4 linked regions of the Homo sapiens genome follow. The protein of the gene in region 2 interacts with the protein of the main gene of each other region in a pairwise test. Each region holds a gene or a part of one and is shown on either strand. Other genes may lie near its edges. The genes, in order: TLCD4, CYP4F2, ZDHHC15 and TMEM82.

What was found.
Region 1: the proteins of CYP4F2 (region 2) and TLCD4 interact in binary tests that used the Homo sapiens proteins (3 or more experiments, as listed by UniProt).
Region 3: the proteins of CYP4F2 (region 2) and ZDHHC15 interact in binary tests that used the Homo sapiens proteins (3 or more experiments, as listed by UniProt).
Region 4: the proteins of CYP4F2 (region 2) and TMEM82 interact in a two-hybrid assay, tested with the Homo sapiens proteins (one large-scale study listed by BioGRID).

Annotation. Positions count from the first base shown.
Region 1 is NC_000001.11:95,141,175-95,144,903, forward strand, and holds part of TLCD4 (TLC domain-containing protein 4), read left to right. Parts: intron 1-2,716; 5' UTR 2,717-2,727; coding exon 2,728-2,882; intron 2,883-3,729. Other genes in the region: TLCD4-RWDD3 (TMEM56-RWDD3 protein), read left to right, coding at 2,728-2,882.
Region 2 is NC_000019.10:15,891,481-15,895,209, forward strand, and holds part of CYP4F2 (cytochrome P450 4F2 precursor), read right to left. Parts: intron 1,103-3,729; coding exon 1,049-1,102; intron 957-1,048; coding exon 829-956; intron 1-828. UniProt on the Homo sapiens protein: A cytochrome P450 monooxygenase involved in the metabolism of various endogenous substrates, including fatty acids, eicosanoids and vitamins.
Region 3 is NC_000023.11:75,432,517-75,436,245, forward strand, and holds part of ZDHHC15 (palmitoyltransferase ZDHHC15), read right to left. Parts: intron 1-3,729. UniProt on the Homo sapiens protein: Palmitoyltransferase that catalyzes the addition of palmitate onto various protein substrates.
Region 4 is NC_000001.11:15,741,186-15,745,501, reverse strand, and holds the start of TMEM82 (transmembrane protein 82), read right to left. Parts: upstream 3,004-4,316; 5' UTR 2,943-3,003; coding exon 2,855-2,942; intron 2,668-2,854; coding exon 2,595-2,667; intron 2,483-2,594; coding exon 2,308-2,482; intron 1,343-2,307; coding exon 922-1,342; intron 1-921.

The sequences.
Region 1 (3,729 bases), on a different chromosome or scaffold from region 2:
AAAATATAATATTCATCCATTAGAACAAAGACTTAAAAACTCGATTTTTGGGCGAGGGTGGGATGATACATTTTTTAATGGTGAATTGTTTGAGTGCTTTTAAATACAGTAGTTAAATGAACAATTCATAAAATGGATAAGGTATGATATGTTTTATGACACCTTTTAACATTCATGAAATAAATGCTTTGTATACATTGAATTTTAACAAACTAAATGAGCAGCCCGTGCCCACCTTCTGCTCTAGGATCAGCAGAGAGCATACGAAAGTCTTCAGGGGAAACCTCCTCACATTTAAGATTAGATTCTCCATTCTCTTCTGATTACTGATTATATTTTTTTTCCAATTTTGTGTCCATCTGGCCTCCAGATACCTATTTGCTTTAATCTTAGAAAAGCATTATTCTCCTTACATCCCACTTAGCAAATTATGGTAATGCTTAATTTATGTACAAAACTTTTATGTATTGTTTGGTTAATATTAAACCTAGGCTAAAAGACCACAAATTAAAATTTTAATACCCAATAAACATATGTTGAATTAAAAAGAAGTAAAAGAGCAGTAAAGTTAATGGAGTCTCATAGAGAAGAATTGTAATATCAATATTTTTACCAAGTACACACACACACACACACACACACACACACACACACACACAAAGAATGAGGAAAGAATTCATTATAGACATATGAATTCTGATGGAAGGGGCCCTGTGGGAGATTGATTCTTATTACGATATCCTGGTTGGAAGGGAATGAAGTGGGGTTATTGCTAGTGCAGTCAATGACTTGGCTTTTCTCTGGTGAATTGATTTCAGTAGGTGACTTTATTTCTTTGCATTAGGCAGCTGGAAATGTGTATTGATTTATTTCTTTTTCATTTGAGAATCAGCTTTATCAAAGATGGAGCCATAGAAATGCTGTATTTGCTGGATATGAGCAAATGCCTTAGTGCCTTTTTTTTTTTTTTTTTGCTCTGAATGTTCCTAAGATTTTTAGGAGCCAAATAAAGTTCAGCTCAATGAAATAGAAAACACACTTTGAGTGTGCATATATGCATAGTACTATTCTTTCTGCTAACTCGATTGTTAAGACCTGAAGCTCTTTTATAAAAATCTTTTTTTTTTTTTTTTTTTTTAATAAGGGATACAAAGCCCTGCAGGCCTTTTGCTCCAAGAATGTGTGTGATTGAAGAGCATGTTTTAAAAGTTAAATTCTCATTTGTGCAGTGACGGTGTTAGCGGTGGAGGGTGTTCAGGTTCTTGGCATTTTGAACAAAGAATTAGACAAAATGCACAAAGCAAGGAAGGAATGAAGCAATGAAAGTAGCGATTTATTAAAAATGAAAGTACACTCCACAGGGTGGGAGTTGGTCCTACCATAGGGGCTCAAGAGCCCGGTTACAGAATTTTCTAGGGCTTAAATACCTGCTACAGGTTTCCCATTGGCCACTTGTTGTACACCCCATGCAAATGAAGTAGTGGCCCACAATCTAGGCCGGTTGTGGTGCCTCACGCCTGTAATCCCAGCACTTTAGGAGGCTGAGGTGGGCAGATCACGAGGTCAGGAGTTCAAGACCAGTCTGGCCAACATGGTGAAACCCCGTCTCTACTAAAAATACAAAAATTAACCGAGTGTGGTGGTGCGTGCCTGTAATCCCAGCCGCTCGCGATGATGAGGCAGCAGAATTGCTTGAATCCGGGAGGCGGAGGTTGCAGTGAGCTGAGATCTATCGCACCACTGCACTCTAGCCTGGGGGACACAGCAAGACTCCATCTGGAGGCGGGGTTGGGGGCGTGGCGGAGGGGAGGGGAAGTTACACTTCTGTGCAAAGGAAGACTTGGCTGGCAGTCAGTCAGATTGGTTGGGGAAAGCAACCAATCAGAGGCTGAAATGAAGTTATAAAGTTATACTCCTATGTAAACGTCTGATTGGTTGCGGAAAGCAACCAATCAGAGGTACTTTCAGTTTTCCATTTGCCACTCAGAAAAGTGAGGGAGGGGTTTTCAAAGCGAGTAACCTCCAGTTATTTTGTTAGTTAGGTGTGTAAAGTTGGGCTTTTCTGTTTGATTTAGTTCTAGGAAGTCAGTATGAATCGGCCTTAGGTTCCCTGCCTCCAGACCCTATTGTCTTGCCTCAACAGTGCAATGGCTCTTTGCTAAGACTGTGTTCTTCTTAAGATTTTAATTTTGTTTTAAATGTTGTTTGTCCTGCTCCAAAATTAGTTTTTTAATTATGGAATTATTTTTTGTTTTGTTATTACAGGCAGTGTTAGTTCTATGGTTTTTGGCTTGATTGTTTCTTAGAAATTATGTAACCAACTCTTTCATATCATAGATGAGAAATTGAGGGATAAAGAAATCGATTTGTCATAAATTTAATTGAAATATTATTAGAAGAATAGTTTTTACTTATAGTACTTGAAATTCTCTGTTAATATTAAGACTTAGATAATTTTGAATATCATGATGTTAAAATTATAAATGACACCTCTAATATTGAGATCTTTAAGATAAAACAGACATAAGATACATGACAAATAGATGGTAAAGGTGAAGAAATATACAAAAGGTCAAAAATTCTTATAGTTTATATTCTTAACATTTGTTCTAAATTTTAAAAATTACTAAAATTACAAGACATATTTCTTAAAATAAAAAAATTACTCTAGGTTTATTATGAGACAACAATTTATAGCTGTCATTTATCTTAACAGGTTGAAGAAATATGGAGATCAACACAAAACTGCTCATCAGTGTTACCTGTATCAGCTTTTTCACCTTTCAGCTTCTTTTCTACTTTGTAAGTTACTGGTTTTCAGCAAAAGTTTCTCCAGGTTTCAATAGTCTCAGCTTCAAAAAGAAGATTGAATGGAACTCAAGGTAAAGCATATGAAAATGTAATTGATGACAAGAAACTAGTTTATGAGATAAAATTATTTAAAATATTTCAAAAAAGTATTTCATTTAGGATCTAATGTAAGGCCAAATTTTTATTTGATCTTAGAAATAAAAGGAAAAACAAGTAGATGATCTCATGCAAAAAAAAGTTTAAGAATTCATATATTGAAAGATGTTAGGAGAAATTTACTTAAGTTTCTGAGGAAGTGTGTGAAGATGAAGTAGACTCCAGCTGACTGTGGATGAATACTAGTACTTTCGTGTTCTTCTTTGAAATATTTATAACAAACATATTCTTTGGAAACAAAGATGGAAGAAAAAATTAGTTGTACTTTTGAGTAGCTTATACCATACAGCATTGGCCAACTTAGCCAGACCTGGGGCAGTTAGACTCTACACATCAGGGAACAAAGTGTACAGTCAGTGCATATGAATCTTTTAATGAACTTTGCATTATAATTTAGAGCCCTCCAGCATTTATTATTTTGTTATATAATTTTAAAGTAAAAATTTCTTTTTAGTTTTTTTTTTTTAAACAGAAAAGTAAATGGAGAAAGAATTAGACATCTATTGATATAGAAATCTGCTGGAGTTTTATTTTTTATTTTTATTTTATTTGTTTATTTATTTTTTTGAGACAGAGTCCCGTTCTGTCGCCCAGGCTGGAGTGCAGTGGTGAAATCTTGGCTCGCTGCAACCTCTGCCTCCCAGGTTCCAGTGATTCTCCTGCCTCAGCTTCCTGAGTAGCTGGGATTACAGGCATGCGCCACCATGCCAAGCTAATTTTTGTGTTTTTAGTAGAGACAGGGTTTCACTAGGTTGGCCAGGC
Region 2 (3,729 bases):
ATACTTCGCAAAACCTTTGCCACAATTCTTCCCTTCCTGCCATATCCACACCCTTTGCAATGTGATTTTTCAGCAACTCCCATTAATAGACAGAGCCTATTTTATCCCCCTGCCTTTGATTCTGTGTTGGACTTTTGGCTTTCGATGTCAAAATACAATGTGGTGAAAATGATGAGTTAATAACTAACGAAGCTAAGCCTTGTCTTACTCCTTGGAACCCTGCCTGCATTGTGAACCATGGCGCGCCTTCTGGAAGGAGACAATCATAGGGAGGAACATCCAGGGGTCCCAGATGAGGCCAAACCTAGACACGTGAGAGAACCCAAACATGTCCCAGCCAAAACCCAAACATGTGGCAGAATTCAGTCAACACCTGCAAGGCTGCCTACCTGACCCCCAGCTGCTCATGTACCATGAGTGGTCCCTTCCATATACAGAAGAACCTGCCAACTGTCCCAAAGACTTATTAGCAAACATAAACACTTATTGGTTTAAACCAATGAGTTTTCAGGTGGTTTCTTATCAGCAACAGCTACTATGAAATTGTTGTCATGACCCTCTTGTGTTTACAGGGCTTTGGTGATGGAAACATAGAAACAGACACCTTCTGGGCACCTGCTATGCACCAGAGACGTGACTCCATTACATTACTCTGACCATCTTTTAAGTAGGGATTATTATCCCCATTTTACAGATGAGGAAACCAAGGCTCAGTGAGAAAGAGCAATGGCCCAATGGCACCCAGCAGAGCCAAAACTCCAGACTAGATCTCTCTGTTGTCCTTTCACCCCAAGGCTGCAAGTGGGACCTTGGCTTCAAATAACTCACGTGCATGATGTTCACACTCTCATTGAAAATCTTCATATAGGGCTTCAGGATGTTGAAATGGAAGGCAGGCGTCAGCATCCGACGGTGGCGGCTCCACTTGTCACCAGCACTCAGCAGGAGCCCATCCCCTAGCAGGGCAGCCAAGGGCCATGGGCAAGGACCTCTCCCTCCCCTGGCCCCCCAACGTTTTTCCCAACCCTGTTCACCTGCAGATACTCACCCAGCCAGGGCTCCAGGAAGCTGTAGAAGAACTTGTCCTTTGGTGCAATGGCAGCTGACATAAATGAGGACAATCAGGGGCCATGGAGGCAGGTGAAAGAGGGACTTTGGGGGTGGGTGGAGGCTCCCAGCAAGAGGTTTGCACTTCTCCCACTCTGAGCCCCACATAGCAGGAAGAGGGCCAAGGGCAGAGGAAGAAGGGAGGATGGGGAGGGGAGGGAAGACCAGACCAGGCTACAGCAGCACAGTACAGCAATGACACTGCCTAACATGGCGTGTAGGAGCTATGTCAGGGTTCCAGCATGCCTTGACATGCCTCCTACACGATCCAACATGTTCCGCAACCCCTGAGCACAGCTCAGCATTCTACAGAATGCTTCACAAGGACCTAGGACACCCTGTCTGTCCCAGCACTCTCTGACATCTTCTGATATGGCATCTTCTGACATGGACCTGGACATGAGACATGACCCTGACATGTGTTCACATGTCCTGACATGGCCACAAAATACATGACAATTCCTAACATGAGATGGTGTGCTCTAACATGCACATGAGATGGTCTAACATGATCTTAAAAGCGTGTTCCACATACAGGCTCTGGGTTGAATATAAATATGGTACCTTTAATGTCACAGACATAGCCAACATGTGAACCAGACTGTTCCTCAGGCATGACCCAAATATACTATAACACATGCCTCAGACAAGACTCAAATAATGTCTCAGACAGTTCACATAGGGACCCTGGGTCCCAGACCTCACACAACCCCCAGACCTCACACAACGCCCAGATGTTTGGACCACCAGGAGAAAACGGCAGTGTCAAACAGCACCTGAGACAAGAACCAAACAGGCCCTCACATGCCCCAAATGTCCTTGGCCACAGATAAGCCCCAAACTTGACCAGCTCTACATGACCCCAGTTGGAATTATATACCAGATGTAACCAGGTATAACATATTTCAGGTGTAACCAGGACCCAGGTGTAAATATACAAGGCAGACCTGGCCATATAACAGCCATTGTAGAGACACGCCCCAGACATGAGCAAACAGCAACAGAGGTTAGACAGGTGGAAGTCCAGGGGCGATGGAGGCAATGGCATCTCCACCACAGCCCCTCCTGTCTGCACATCGGTCACGTGTTCAGCTGGAGGCAGCACAGCAACCCCAGCTGTGGGCAAAGCTTGGCCAGTGCGATGTCTACCTGGAGCAAAGAGCACAGGCTTGATGCACGTGGGGAGAAAGATGTGGATGACTGCCTGCCAGGGCCCCACCCACCAGCAGCCCATATCCCCAAAGGTGCACGCCAGGCTTTGTGTGTATAGGAGACCTTCTTCTGAGCTGTGAATCTGGAGAAAAACACACAGGACCCAATTCATGCTCTCCTAGGCTGTGAGAGAGAAGGATCTGCAGGGAAGAGGTCGAAGCCCTCTCCCTGAGAATTTCAAGCAGCATCTCATCCTCCTGTCAGTGCTGAGCACCCCCTGCCTCCTCACATCCTCCATGCAGGACTCTCCAGTCCTTCAGTTACACAGACAGAAAAGGTCTTTCCCCATGTGGATCCACACACCATGTTCCCTGGGCTCTCATTCATCCCATTTTCCAGATGAAGAGCCTGAGGCTCTGAACAATAAAGTCACTTGCCCACAGTCCCAGACCACGGCAAGCCTGAGGCCTAAGACTAGGTCTGTCTGCACCCATGGCCTGAATCCTTAACCAACAAACTTCTTTGTGCCCCCAAAACAGTAGCTCTGGAAGACCCAGGCCTACCAAGACTGGGCAATCAGAGACACAGGGATTGGGTGAAAAATTGGTCCTGTGATCCAGGCCAGGAGAAGTAAACCATGGGCCATTTCTGGGAACTCTAGGGGAAAGGTGGCCTTTCCCATAAGAACTGAGCTTCTGGGACTCATCGTTGACATCATGAGGAAAAGGCCACCTTGATAGGAAAAGCGACATGGAGAAAGCTAAAGCCAAGAGAGAAAGACAGATTTCCAGTGACCTTGTGTGAGACCTGGATCCAGCCATGCCTGAAGGCCACCCTCCCTGGACTTTAAAGTCAATAGATTATCTTTCTTTGCTTAGACCACACCAGGTTGGGTTTCCACCACTCACAACTGAAAGAGACTTCAATAACCAGAGACAGCTGGGTACCAGCCCAGAGTCACTCAGCATTTTGAGGTCAGAGCCATGGTCTCTGTAGGATGCTGCCCATTCCCCCTGCTCAGCCTCGCCCGTCCAACGATGGGAAGCACAGGGGTCAAGGAAAGGGACCCAAGCTGGGGTGGAGTCTCCTCTTGGAGATCCCCGGGACCTGCAGCAGGAGAGCAACGAACTTAGGGCAGACAAGCTATAGGATGGGGTAAAGGGAATTGACCCACCAGAGGTGGACATCATGGAAGTAGCAGCCCAGATCCCCCACCAGCCACAAGTCCTCCTCATTGTTCTAGGCTTTGGGACAGGCAAGGTGATGCTAGGCCTGGCAAGGGGCCTTGAATACTAACGATGTCCAATTGCCTCACCCTGCACTCTCCTTTCAAACATTCCTACTCATTGTTCCAGACACAGCTCCAGTAACTCCTCCTCTAGGAAGCCTTCCAGCCTGCCCCAGCAGAGACCTTGTTCTTCCCTGGGCTGTGATCCATCTCCCTCTGGCCCTTTCCTGATCCCATGAAGT
Region 3 (3,729 bases), on a different chromosome or scaffold from region 2:
TCTGGGTCCTTTTGCATATTTTAAAATATACTGTCAATGCTCCTATCCTCATTTAAGCCACATTGTCTCTTAGCTAGTTGACTGCAATATCTGTGTAATTTATCACTCTGCTTTCATACTTGCCCCTCAAAAGACCTACTATACAGAGTAGCTGGGTGATCTGTCAAAATCTACATCAGATCTGGTGTAGTGGCTCATGTCTATAATCCCAGCACTTTGAGAGACTGAGGCACAACTATCGCTTGAGACCAAGAGTTCCAGACCAGCCTGGACAACATAGTGAGACCCTGTCTCTATAAAAAAATAAAATAAAATAAATTAGCCAGGCATGGTGGTGTGCACTTGTGGCCTCAGCTACTTGGGAGGCCGAGGCGGGAGGATTGCTAGAGCCCAGGAGTTCGAGGCTGCTGTGATCCATGAATGAACCACTGTACTCCAGCCTGGGCGATAGAGCAAGATCCTGTTTCTAAAAATAAAAAAAAAAATGTAAATCAGATCATATCACTCTCCACTTAAAACTCTCAATGGATTTCCAACACCTTCAGAATAAAATCCAAACTCCTTACCATGGCCTGTATCATCTAGCCTCTGCCTATCTCTTCAAATGAATCTTGTAAAACTCTCCTCATACTATGTTCCAGTGAAACTGGCTGCCTATCTGCTCTTGTAATCAAGCTTGCTCCTGTTTCAAGGCTTTTTGTGCTTGCAGTTCCTTTTGCCTGGGATGATCATCCCTCTGCTCCTTTTGGTATGATGGTTAATTTTACTTTTTTTATTTCAATAGGTTTTTGGGGAACAGGTGGTGTTTGGTTACATGGATAAGTTGTTTAGTGGTGATTTCTGAGATTTTGGTGCACCCACCATCTAAGCCGTAAACACTGTACCCAGCATGTAGTCTGTTAACCCTTGCCACCCCCTACCCTTCCCCCTGAGTCCCCAGAGTACACTATATCATTCTTAGGCTTTTGCATCCTCATAGCTTAGCTCTCACTCATAATTGAAAACATATGATATTAGGTTTTCCACTCCTGAGTTACTTTACATAGAATAATGGTCTCCAACTCCATCCAGGTTGCTGAGAATGCCATGATTTTGTTCCCTTTTTATGGCCAAGTAGTGTATATTTTTTATGGCTGAGTAGTGTGTGTGTGTGTGTGTGTGTGTGTGTGTGTGTGTGTGTGTATATATATATATATATATATGTAACATTTTCTTTATTCACTCATTGGTTTGGGCTGGTTCCATATTTTTGTAATTTGTAATTGCAAACTGTGTTGCGATGAACATGCCTGTGCAAGTGTCTTTTTCATATAATGACTTCTTTTGCTCTGGGTAAATACCCAGGAGTGGGATTGTTGGATCAAATGACAGATCTACGTTAGTTCTTTAAGGAATCTCCATACTGTTTTCCATAGTGGTTGTAGTAGTTCATATTCCCACCAGGAGTGTAAAAGCGTTCCCTTTTCACCACATCAAAGCCAACGTTTATTATGCTTTGATTTTTAAATTACGGCCATTCTTGCAGGAATAAGGTGGTATTGCATTGTGGTTTTGACTTGCATTTCCCTGAAAATTAGTGATGTTGAGAATATTTTCACGTTTGTTGGCCATTTGTATATCTTCTTTTGAGAATTGTTTATTCAGGTCCTTAGCCCACTTTTTGATGGGATTGTTTTTTTCTTGCTGATTTGTTTGGGTTCCTTGTAGATTCTGGATATTCGTCCCTTGTCACATGCATAGTTTGTGGATAATTTTTCCCAGCCTTTGGGTTGTCTGTTTACTCTGCTATTTCTTTTCCTATGCAGAAGCTTTCTAGTTTAATTAAGTCCCATCAATTTATCTTTGTTGGTGTTGCATTTGCCTTTGGGTTCTTGGTCATGAACTATTTGCATAGGCCAATATCTAGCAAAGTTTTTCCAATGTTATCTTCTATAATGTTTATGGTTTCAGGTCTTAGATTTAAGTCTTCGATCCAACTTGAGTTCAGTAGATTTTTGTATATGGTGATAAATGAGGATCCAGTTTCATTCTTCTACATGTGGCTTGCCAATTATCCCAGCATCATTTGTTGAATAGGGTGTCTTTCCCCACTTTATGTTTTTGTTTGCTTTGTCAAAAATCAGTTAGCTGTAAGTATTTGGGCTTATTTCTGGGTTCCTATTCTGTTCCATTGGTCTATGCACCTATTTTTATACCTGTACCATGCTGCTTTGGTGACTATAGCCTTGTAGTATAGTTTGAAGTCAGGTAACGTGATGCCTCCAGATTTGTTCTTTTTGCTTACTCTTGCTTTGCCTAATGCGGGCTTTTATAGTTTCACATGAATTTTAGAATTGTTTTTTCCAGTGCTGTGAAGAATGATGGTGGTAGTTTGATGGGAATTGCATTGAATGTGTATATTGCTTTTGGCAGCATGGTCATTTTCACAATATTGATTATACCCATTCATGGGCATGGGATGTGTTTCCATTTGTTTACGTTGTCTATGATTTCTTTCAGCAGTGTTTTGTAGTTTTCCTTGTAGAGGTCTTTCATGTCCTTGGTTAGGTATATTTCTAAGTTTTGTTTGTTTGTTTGTTTTCTGCTATAGTAAAAGTAGTGGAGTTCTTGATTTGATTCTCAGCTTGGTTGCTGTTGGTGTATAGCACTGCTACTGATTTGTATACATTAATTTTGTAACGTGAAATTTTATTGAATTCATTGATCAGATCCAGGAGCTTTTTGGAAGAGTCTTTAGGGTTTTCTAGGTATATGATCACATTATCAGCAAACAGTGACTGTTTGACTTCCTCTTTATTCATTTGGATGTCCTTTATTTCTTTCTCTTGTCTGATCACTCTGGCTAGGACTTCCAGTACTATGTTGAATAGAAATGGTGAAAGTGGGCATCTTTGTCTTGTTCCAGTTCTCAGGAACAATGCTTTCAACTTTTCCCCATTCAGTATAATTTAGCTGTGGGTTTGTCATAGATGGCTTTTATTACCTTAACATATTTCCCTTCTATGCTGATTTTGCTGAGGATTTTAATCATAAAGGGATGCTGGATTTTGTCAAATGTTTTTTCTGCGTCTATTGAGATGATCATGTGATTTTTGTTTTTACTTATGTTTATGTGGTGTACCACATTTATTGACTTGCCTGTGTTAAACCAACCCTGAATCCATGGTATGAAACCCACATGATGATGATGGATTATGTTTTTGATATGCTGTTGAATTCGGTTAGCTAGTATTTTGTTGAGGATTTCTGCATCTATATTCATTAGGAATATTGGTCTGCAGTTTTCTTTTTTAGCTATGTTCTTTCCTGGTTTTTGGTACTAGGGTAATATTGGCTTCATAGAATAATTTAGGAAGGATTCCCTCTTTCTCTGTCTTTTGGAATAGTTTCAGTAGGAGTGGTACCAATTCTTCTTTGAGTGTCTGATAGAATTCAGCTGTGAATCCATCTGGCCCTGGACTTTTTTTTGTTGGCAATTTTTTTATTACCATTTTAATCTTGCTGCTTGTTACTGGCCTCTTCAGAGTTCCCATTTCTTTCTGGTTTAATCTAGCACAGTTGTATATTTGCAGGAATTTATCCATCTCCTCTAAATTTTCTAGTTTGTGCCCACGAATGTGTCCTTAGTTGCCTTGAATGATCTTTTGTATTTCTGTTATCGGCTGTAATATCTCCCTTTTTGTTTCAAATTGAGCTTATTTGGATCTTCACTCTTCTTGGTTTATCTCA
Region 4 (4,316 bases), on a different chromosome or scaffold from region 2:
TGTCGCCCAGGCTGGAGTGCAGTGGTTCGATCCTGGCTCACTGCAACCTCTACCTCCTGGGTTCAAGCGATTCTTGTGCCTCAGCCTCCTGAGTAGCTGGATTACAGGCATGGACCACCACACTGGGCTAATTTTGTATTTTTAGTACAGGCAGGGTTTTACCATGTTGGTTAGGCTGGTCTTGAACTCCTGACCTCACGTGATTTGCCTGTCTCAGCTTCTCAAAGTGCAGGGATTATAGGCATGAGCCACTGTGCCCGGCTGACCCCTTCTCTACAAAAAATAAAATTAGCCTGGCATAGTGGTGTGTGCCTGTAATCCCCACAACTTGGGAGGCTGAGGTGGGAGAATCACTTGAGCCCAGAAGGTCAAGGCTGCGGTGAGCCATGATCGTGCCACTGCACTCTAGCCTGGGCCACCAAGCAAAACCCTATCTCAAAAAACAGAAAAGCAAAACAAAACAAAAACATAAACAAACTTGGACAGCAGCCTCTCATCAGACTTCCCCGCCTGGCTGTTGAGGGCTCTCCAACAGGCCCCTTCGAACCTGGCCAGCCTCACCCCTTCCCTGTGCCCTTGGGGTGACAGCCACACTGGACTCCTGTGGCTTGTTTGGCACGGCCATGCCCTCTCTCCCCTCTGGGCATTGGCACATGCGGTTCTCTCTGTCCAAGATTCTGTTCCCTGCCTCGCTTCTCTTAGGGATCTCCTGCTCATCCTTCAAAGCCCAATCTAAAGACTACAACCTCAGGGTGCCCACTACATGCTGCTTCTCTGCACTGCCCCCGCCACACAGCCTCTGTCCTGACCAGGCTCTCTGGGATGGCAAGAGTGAGGGCTGATGGCTCTCGGCCTCCCCGGAGCCTGACCCAGACAGAGGGATGTGCGTGGATTGAATGGAGCAGGCCCCGCAGCGCTCACCCTGCATGTAGATGACCAGCAGCGTGTAGCAGATGGTGAGCGGTGTCCAGAACCGCATGGCCTCCGAGGTGGTCAGGAAGTCCTGGTTGATGAGGGCCACAGCTGCCAGGTCACCCACGGCAAAGGCTATGGCCAGGGCACGGCCCAGCAGCTGGGGGAGGCCATGTGCATGGGCCAGCAGGCCCAGGCACACCCCACAGTAGCGCTGGCTGCTGTGCAGCTCGTAGAGGCGGCAGACGTGGCGGTGGAGGCGCCGGGCACCCAGGCCCAGCAGCGTGGCCAGCCCGAGGCTCAGCAGCAGGTTCAGCGTGCGGTGAGGGGCGCCCTCCTGCAGGAAGCTCAGGCCACAGGTCAGCCCGCAGCCCAGCGAGTACTGGCACAGCAGGTAGAGCTGCAGCCTCTCGGCGGCACCCTGGGAGCCCTGCGGGGAGTGCCGAAGAGGGGCCGAGATGTGGGGGCTGCCTCACCACAGGTGCTGCCCACCACAGGAAGCCGGAGCCTGAAGGGACCTTGGGGATGGTTCCCGAAGGGGCCACATCGGCTTCAGATGAAGCCCTAGGGGATCATCTCTCTCACCTTAATTTCAATCATATGGGTTTTGTTTTGTTTTTTTTTTTAGACAGAGTCTTGCTCTGTCACCCAGGCTGGAGTACAGTGGCTCGATCTCCGCTCACTGCAACCTCCGCCTCCTGGGTTCAAGCAATTCTCCTGCCTCAGCCTCCCAAGAAGCTGGGATTACAGGCACCCGCCACCATGCCCAGCTAATTTTTTTGTTTGTTTGTTTTTGTTTTTAGAGATGGGGTTTCTCCATGTTGGCCAGGCTGGTCTCGAAATCCTAACCTCAGGTGATCCGCCTGCCTCGGCCTCCCAAAGTGCTGGGATTACAGGCGTGAGCCACCACGCCCAGCCTTCAATCATGTCTTAGTACTTGGGGCCCATCTGTTAGCTGAAGGGTGGTGGTTCAGAGTCTCAGAGACCTGGGTCCAAAGCCTGACTCTATCTGTTGACCATAGACAAGCCACATACTCTCTGAGCCTTAGTTTCCCCATCTGTGAAATGGGGAATCAGAGCAAACCTTTACCCCTGTGGCTGTGAGGATTACGTGATGCACACGGTGCACTCGGCGCAGGGCCTGGCATTTGGGGGGCCGGATCTACAGAAACTGTCGCTCTTGTCTTCTTGGGACTGGGACTGTGTCCACTGTGAGTGTGGCCGCTTCCGCAACCAAACCCAAAGGTGCAACCTGCAGCCTCTGTTCTCAGTCTTACGGAAAATACGGCGAAGAGGCTGGGATGCTGGACCTGGGCCCTGCTGCCCACATTCCGGGGGTGAGCCCGGGCCCTGGGCTGGGGAGTGATCCACCCACTGCCTTCCCGGAGGCCTCACCTTGCCCAGGGACAGCAGCGTGGACACGGCCCGGAGGGAGAACTCGAGCACCACGAGGGCAGCCACCCGGGACCCCACGACCGTCAGAAACAGGGCCAGCCCTGCCAGGTGCACCGTTTCCAGGGAGGCCCACTGGGCCCGAAGCCGCTCCTTTTCGGGTCGCCGCTGCGGGTCACTTTGGGGACAGAATGGGTGTGGGCAGGGGTGCAGAACTGCCACCTTCGACCCCTGGTGGGGGTCCCCGTGCCCCCAGCCACATTCCCTGGGGGGATGAGGTGGGCACTCACTTGGCACAGCCCACGAAGAAGTAAACTTTCAGGAGGCTGTTCAGGACCAAGACTCCAAGGGCCCCGATCAGGCCTGAGGGGGCGGGAGGGAGGCAGCGAGGCAGCGTGCAGGGGTGTTAGGAGGGCAGGCTTCATTGGTAGGGTCAGAGGGGGCGGCCAAGGGGCAGGGGTGTCGGGAGACCAGGTGGGTGGGGTCCACCCTGCACTGCAAAGAGCTGGAAGGGGGCGGGGCCAAGGCAGGAATGGGGCGAGGTGCTCACCTTGCAGGAGGGAGTCAAGGAGGCTAGAGCCCCACTCGAGGGAGGGGAGGCCGGGGAGCCAGGAGGGGAGGGATGGAAGAGAGAACATGGCAGCCCCGGAAGGAGCCCCAGCCTCCGGCCAGGTCTGCGTAAGGACAGACCAACGTCACTGGGCAAAGGTGTCGGTGGAGGGAAGGAGAGAGGCTGGGAGGGGTCAAAGGCCCAGGGGAGGGGAGGGGAGGAGAGCCAGGGGTGTTAACCCTTCGAGGCCCAGAAGGGCAAGGTCCCAGCTCCAGGCACACGGGGTGCCTGGAGCCAGCTGCTGCCCGGGCTCCCCATTTGGGCAGTGTGGGGTGAAGGGACAGGTGTCTCTGGGCTGGTCTCTGGTCTCTGTCCCTGCTAAAGTCTGGCATCCACTTTACTTGAAATCTTCCTTGAGGGAGGACAGGCGCAGTGGCTTACACTTGTAATCCCAGCACTTTGGGAGGCCAAGGTGGGCAGATCACAAGGTCAGGAGTTCGAGACCAGCCTGACCAATATGGTAAAACTCTGTCTCTACTAAAAATACAAAAAATTAGCCGGGCGTGGTGGCAGGCACCTGTAATCCCAGCTACTCGGGAGGCTGAGGCAGGAGAATGGCTTGAACCCAGGAGGCGGAGGTTGCAGTGAGCTGAGATCACACCATTGCACTCCAGCCTGGGCAACAGAGCAACACTCTGTCTAAAAAAAAAAAAAAAAAAAAAAAATAGCAATCTTCCTTGAGGGCTTGAACCACCCAATGCCCCTTCGAAGTCCCAGGCTCCATCTGTCCTGCCCCGCCTTAGGTGTGGGTCCTGTCCTCTTGCAGCCTGAAGTGTGGGCTCTGACCCTTCAGCCCAGGGTCTGAGAGTAGGGACTCTATCCCCCCATAGCCAGAGATCAGCTGTGCCCTCTCAGCCTGAGGTCTGGGGCTCTCTTCCCCCACAGCCAGGAGGTCAGCTCTGCCTGCTTTTTGTAAGGTCTGGTTCCAGCTTCCCAAAGCCTCCGGCTCTGACTCGGTGTGGAATCTCCTGCAGCCCGAGCCTGCCTGAGCCTTCTCCTCCCACAGGCCGGGGCCGCCCTTCCTGATGCTCCTCCCTGGGTCCACTAGGTGGCAGGCCTCACCTGGGTCCAGCAGGGCGGAGCTGAACAGGTGGACCACGGCTCCCATCCTGCTTTCACAAACAGAAAGGGCAGAGGGAGCAGAAGGTGGGGGTCAGGGATGGGGGAGACTGAGATTCACCACAGAGGAGGGTCGTTGAAGTAAACAAAATATAAAACTTTATTGGTTTGGAGTGTGCAGTAGCAGGTGTTCCTGGGAGCGGCCCTTACAGACTTGGGGTGTGGCTGGGAGGGCAGGTGGGGCTGCTCGGCAGCAGTCCTGCCCCTGCCAGGGAGTTGGCATCCATCTCTGCAGTGTGAAGGTCGGTGCGGCGCTGAGAGCACACCCACGGGGAATGGTGCT